Homo sapiens: one gene and its partner. The protein of the gene in region 2 purifies or fractionates together with the protein of the main gene of each other region. This does not show direct contact. Each region holds a gene or a part of one and is shown on either strand. Other genes may lie near its edges.

Evidence for each region.
Region 1: the proteins of TEP1 (region 2) and TERT purify together in Homo sapiens (affinity purification with western blotting, with the first as the bait; 2 studies listed by BioGRID). This does not show direct contact.

The regions. Positions count from the first base shown.
Region 1 is NC_000005.10:1,254,685-1,257,210, forward strand, and holds part of TERT (telomerase reverse transcriptase), read right to left. Parts: intron 728-2,526; coding exon 603-727; intron 1-602. UniProt on the Homo sapiens protein: Telomerase is a ribonucleoprotein enzyme essential for the replication of chromosome termini in most eukaryotes. Active in progenitor and cancer cells. Inactive, or very low activity, in normal somatic cells.
Region 2 is NC_000014.9:20,365,049-20,368,708, reverse strand, and holds the end of TEP1 (telomerase protein component 1), read left to right. Parts: intron 1-149; coding exon 150-272; 3' UTR 273-3,042; downstream 3,043-3,660. UniProt on the Homo sapiens protein: Component of the telomerase ribonucleoprotein complex that is essential for the replication of chromosome termini. Also a component of the ribonucleoprotein vaults particle, a multi-subunit structure involved in nucleo-cytoplasmic transport.

The DNA of each region.
Region 1 (2,526 bases), on a different chromosome or scaffold from region 2:
ACAACACAGAAAGAACAGAAAGTAGAAGCTGTTAAGCTCAGGACCGCAGGTTCGACATGGCTTGAATTTCAGACGGATCAGAAACCTCCCTGATGCTGGACAAAGTGTCCAGGGGCAGAGGACGGTGACTGGGAAGCAGAGGACGGCGCGGGGCTCTGTCGTGGTGATACGCGGCCTCTGCTCCTGAGAGGGGTGGGGTAGCCTGGGCCTGGCCTCCTCCTAAGCCCTTGGCCTGGGTTTGCACAAGGGCCCTAAGTGCCATGGACGGGAGACAGCCCAATCCCACCACAGGGCAAACAGGAGAGGCCAGGCCCCCCAAATCCCACCATGGGGCAAACAGGAGAGACCAGGCCCCCCAGCGCTTCCCCAGGCAGAGCAAGGTGGGAAGGATGGCAGCTCCCAGACAGCTCCTGTCCCTTCCATCAGGTGCTCTGCTCACCCCACGAGAGGGCGGGCAGACGAGCCTGACAGTGGTTGGGTTAAACCACTTCCTGATGCGAAAAGGGGTAAGAACTTCCTAAGCCCAGATTCACTCAGTCTCCTGACACACTAACACCAGCAGGCAGGCACTGCTGCCACTGAGGCCAGGCACCTGCACATACCTGCGTTCTTGGCTTTCAGGATGGAGTAGCAGAGGGAGGCCGTGTCAGAGATGACGCGCAGGAAAAATGTGGGGTTCTTCCAAACTTGCTGATGAAATGGGAGCTGCAGCACACATGCGTGAAACCTGAGAGGATGGCGGACAGCGTCAGAGGAAAGGCCTCCTAATCAGACGGTGCTCGTGGGTGTGGGCATGGGCCCACCGGTGCCTGTGTGCGTGCATGAATGCACATGCATGGGTTTCCTCATGGGCACAGGTGCACACACACGGATGCATGCATGCATGTCTGTGTGTGTGCTTGTGTGTGCGAGTAGCTGCGTGTCTGTGTGTGCACAGGTACACTGCGTTTCTGTGCACCATCTGTATGAACACGCATGTGGAGGCTGAAGCAGCTCCATCCTGGATGCCAGCCCCCCATGCTGGCTTCTGATTAGCCCCTGTTCCGGGAAGGCCTCTAAGGTTTCCAGTTTATCCATTGTTCCTTGTGTACCAGCAGGTACTTATCATGAATCCTGCCCTTCGTCAGACAACCTTGATGTCATCGTATATCAACGTCCTGCGCATCCCTTCTGAGCCACCCGCCCCTGTGGTGCATAAACCCTGGGTCTGGGGTGATGGTGTGAGGACCCATCATCTCATCTCACTGACACCGAGACACCGACTTGGCTTCTGTGTGTAGGTTAAGTTCCTACTAAATGTTTCTTTCCAAGAAACTGCATTTGTCAGTCTTCTTTGTTGTTGTTGAGATGGGCTCTCACTCTGTCACCCAGGCTGCAGTACAGTGGTGCAATCTCAGCTCACTGCAGCTTCCACCTCCTGGGCTCAAGTGATCCTCCCACTTCAGCCTCCCAAGTATTGGAACTACAGGCGCACACCACCATGCTCAGCTAATTTTTGTTTTTATTTTTCATAGAGATGGGGTTCTACTATGTTGCTCAGGCTGGTCTTAAACTCCTGGGCTCAAGGGATCCTCTCGCCTCGGCCTCCCAAAGTGCTGGGACTACAGGTGTGAGCCACCGCGCCAGCCCTGTCAGCCTCCATCTTTGGCCTCTCAGCTTCCTGGGACTTTGGGGCAGGTGTGCACAGACCTGGCTACCATGAAACAGCACATGTGCACATGTGCTCATATGTGCGTGTGATCAGAGCCCCCGTGTACCTGGTCTGACCCTCTGCCTGAGCCCCCCGTGTACCTCATCTCACCCAGTGCCTGAGCCCCCCATGTACCTGGCCTCACCCACTGCCTGAGCCCCCCGTGTACCTCATCTCACCCACTGCCTGAGCCCCCCATGTACCTGGTCTCACTGACTTCCTGAGCCACTTCTGGAATGACCTGAGATCACACCAGTCAAGCCAGCACCCCGGTTTCAGCCTCTCAGTAACTCTGCTGAGGTGGGATGTCTTTTCCCCATTTAGCAACAACGGAAGCCAGGCCCAGAATGTTTTTAAACAAATAAATAAGCCTAAGGTCCCGGGGTTGCCACACGGCCACGCTCCTGACCCAGGAGGGAAACACCTAGCATGGGTGAGGGGCTCTCTTCCAAAGGGAGAAATAGCCACCTGCTAGAGGTCGGGGCGTCCACCCCAAGCCCGTGTGGAGGCGCGGCCAGCACGGGCCAGGAAGGCCGAGCCCCAGCGGATTTGAATCAGACCCCGCCCCCAGCGCCACGTGGACCACCACAGCCTCGCCCACTGCAGCCTGGCTGCCGTGAAATCGGGGCCCAGCTCTCCGTTCTCCCACTCCTGCCTCGAGGGAAGGGGATTCCTGGGCCTTCCACGTGCCTGACTCTGTGTTTGGAAACGGCCCGTGGCCCATCGCATCTCGGCCTCCTCAGGGCTACCCAATCAAGCGACTACCCAAGGGTCCCCACATGGGTGGGGAAACTCAGCCGCCCTGCCCTGAGCCCAGGCCCTCTACGGGAGCTCCT
Region 2 (3,660 bases):
GAAAGGGCAAAAGATCAAAATTCTGTTTTCTTCAATCACTTGCAATGTATGACTAACCTGTTTCTAAATAAAAGGCATTAATGTGAGAAAAAATAAGTTAGTAAGGAGGCTTGTAGCCCTGACCTCCCCTATTTTTGTTCCCATCGTAGCTGGGCCTGTTCCGATGCGAAGGGTCAGTGAGCTGCCTGGAACCTTGGCTGGGCGCTAACTCCACCCTGCAGCTTGCCGTGGGAGACGTGCAGGGCAATGTGTACTTTCTGAATTGGGAATGAAGATGTGCCACTCGGGAATAATGATACCCCTTGTGCTAGAGATGCAAAGCCTGAAGACACTGGTAGCTTTTAATAATTATAAAATTAATAATTTCTTGATAATTATAAAAATGAAGTGTCAAAAAATCTCAAGTGTAGGCCTGCCTGTGTTCTCATGTGGATTTAGAACAGGAGGATATTCTATGTGTATGTATATGTACATTCTAATGTGTGTCTCTTCTTATTCAACATTAATCCTTACTAGAACCACAAGAAAGTGAATGAAATCTTTAGTAGGTACTCTTTTGAAACTAGGTTTTAGAATTCTTGCATCACTCGCGGGCCCTAGGACCCTAGGATGCCATTCTTGCCAGGAGGAGGAATGAGAGTGATGTTGGCCAACATTCAATTTGAACAGAGCATGGAAGACCTTTCAGTTCATCGGGAAAGAATGAGGGAGGGAGAATAAGTCAGTCATGCATCAGGGCATTTAGAAAGAGCTATGTTTCTGTCACAGAGACAGCCCTTTTCTCAGAACTACCCAGAGGAGGCCGGGCATGGTGGCTCACGCTTGTAATCCCAGCACTTTGGGAGGCCGAGGTGGGCAGATCACGAGGTCAGGAGATCAAGACCATCCTGGCTAACATAGTGAAACCCTGTCTCTACTAAAAAATACAAAAAGTTAGCCAGGTGTGGCGGCGGGCACCTGTAGTCCCAGCTACTTGGGAGGCTGAGGCAGGAGAATGGCGTGAACCCAGGAGGCGGAGCTTGCAGTGAGCCGAGACACCACTGCACTCCAGCCTGGGCAACAGAGCGAGACTCTGTCTAAAAAAAAAAAAAAAGAACTACCCAGATGAGAGGTGAGGAGCCAAGCCATTGAAAGCGGAACAAACCTTCTGGTTTTCCCAACTTCTGACACGACTTTCAACTTTAGTCAATATGGTAATTGGCATTCTCAGAAGAGATCACGAAAGTGTCTTACTCTCTCTCAAATTGAAATTCACAAAGATTAAAACTAATTGAGAGGTGGCACAATCATAGCCATGAACTCTGATTTTCTTAAGTAAAAAACCTTTTTTTTTTTTTTTTGTTTTTGAGATAGAGTCTGGCTCTGTCACCTAGGCTGGAGTGCAATGGTGCAATCTCAGCTCAGTGCAACCTCTGCTTCCTGGGTTCAAGCGATTCTCCTGCCTTAGCCTCCCGAGTAGCTGGGATTACAGGTGCCCACCACCACGCCCAGCTAATTTTTGTATTTCAGTAGAGACGAAGTTTCACCATGTTGGCCAGGTGGGTCTCAAACTCCTGACCTCAGGTTATCTGCACACCTCAGCCTCTTAAAGTTCTGGGATTACAGGCGTGAGCCATTGTGCCCGGCCCATAAAAGAACTTTATTATATTTCTAAAATTCAATCATATGGAAGAATCTATTGAGCAGGTTAGCCTTTGCTTAACTTTCCTCCTCTGTTACTCCAGCCTTAGCTGGGGTGTTTTGTAGAATTTTCAGAGCATGGGAGACAGACAACTAGAGCTTCCTCCTGCCCTTGGCCCATGCTTTTAGGAGAGCAAAAGGCAAAAGATTGAAACCACTGACTTTAGTTTCCTCAGGCCCTTTCTTTCTGAGGGTTAAAGAAGAAGGAAATGTCTTCTGTGGCCAAGAATTCAAGGACTTGTAGGAGATAAGTGAAGGCTATTACAGGGATTTTGTCCTGGTTTGGTAGGTTTCTCTTGGAGAAATACCACTACACCCTGGTCTAGAAATGAGTTTTGAAGACTTGGGGAGTTAAAGGGCACTGAGTTTTACTCTCACTGTACCCTGATTCCAGGTTTTACATGGAGAAATAACCTGAGGGACTTTATTTCTATCCAATGCCCTGGTTTCCATCCTGACCAGAGGATGATGACATCCGCTGATAGGCCATGCTTCTGTCTTCTCTTATGTGCCTCATGCCAAGCCTCGAAATATACCTTCTGGACCATCATTTCCACATCTACCTTGTGACTAGAAGTCCTAGTTATGGTATTTTGAAATTTATGATCCATAATCCTTGCCAGAAATCCTGCAGCGAACTATGGCATGGCATCATCCTAGTCATTGATTTCAATCTTTTGCCTTTTGCTCCCCTAAAATCTTGGGCCAATTGCAGGAGGAAGCTCTATTTGTCTCTCTTCCATGCTCTGAAAATTATATAAAAGCATCCCAGCTAAGGCTGGAGTGAAGGGGTTGGGGAAAGTTAAGCAAAGGCTAACTTGACCAATAGGCTCAATAGATTCAGTCTTGTTGGCCAGGCCCACTTGAAGGGTTTTTTGTTTCATCTTGGAGAAGGACAGTGAGGTCATGGTATAATTGTTATGAGTAAAGTCAAGAACAGCTTCTAGGTAAAAGTAATTATGTACCCAAAAGGAGTTGAAGGGAAAATCAATTTAGGTTTACATTAAACATCCTTCAAGTTCTTATCTTTAAATGGAGTTTCAGTGTCTCCCAAAGGCTGGATGAGTTTTACAGTTATAACCACTGGATTGTGAGACCATAGGACATTTGAACAATCTTTTCTTCTACCCATCTAGAAAAGCATCTTTTTTATATACCAAATTTTTACACATATATCCACATCTGTTTTTGAAATCTAGAGCAGAGGTACTCAAAGTTTGGTTCATGGACTAGTGCCAGTTCACAAATTGTTAATGTTTTATAATGAGATAAGTACGGAAGTTGAGAGTAACCATTTAGAAACTGTGTAGGAATTTAAAAAGTAATATCTGACAAATTTAATAATAAAAATGGAGGCTTGTATTTTGTGTGCTTTTTAATTTCATTTTCTTAATAATCCATTTTGATTATATTTTATAAAAGTATTATTCCGTGACAGATAAGAAATTAAAACAGGCCAGGCACGGTGGCTCACGCCTATAATCCCAGCACTTTGAAAGGCCAAGGCGGGTGGATCACCTGGGGTCTGGAGTTCGAGGCGAGCCTGGCCAATATGGTGAAACCCCGTCTCTACTAAAAATACAAAAAATTAGCTGGGCATGGTGGCAGGCACCTGTAATCCCAGCTACTTGGGGGGCTGAGGCAGGAGAATCGCTTGAACTCAGGGGGCAGAGGTTGCAGTGAGCCGAGATCGCATCATTGCACTCCAGGCTGGGCAACAAGAATGAAACTTGGTCAAAAAAAAAAAAAAAAGAAAAAAAAGAAAGCAAGAAAGAGAGAGGGAGGGCGGGAGGGAGGCAGGAAGGAAGAAAGAAAGACAAAGGAACAATTAGTCCTTCATCTCAGAAGGTTTGAGAAGCACTACTCTAGAGAGACTGGGTAACAGCAGCAAAAAGCATGGACTTGGAATAAGACTGCCTGAGTTCAAATCTTCATGCCTCCTTTCCCCCATTTGTACAACAGCCATAATAATGGTGCTTA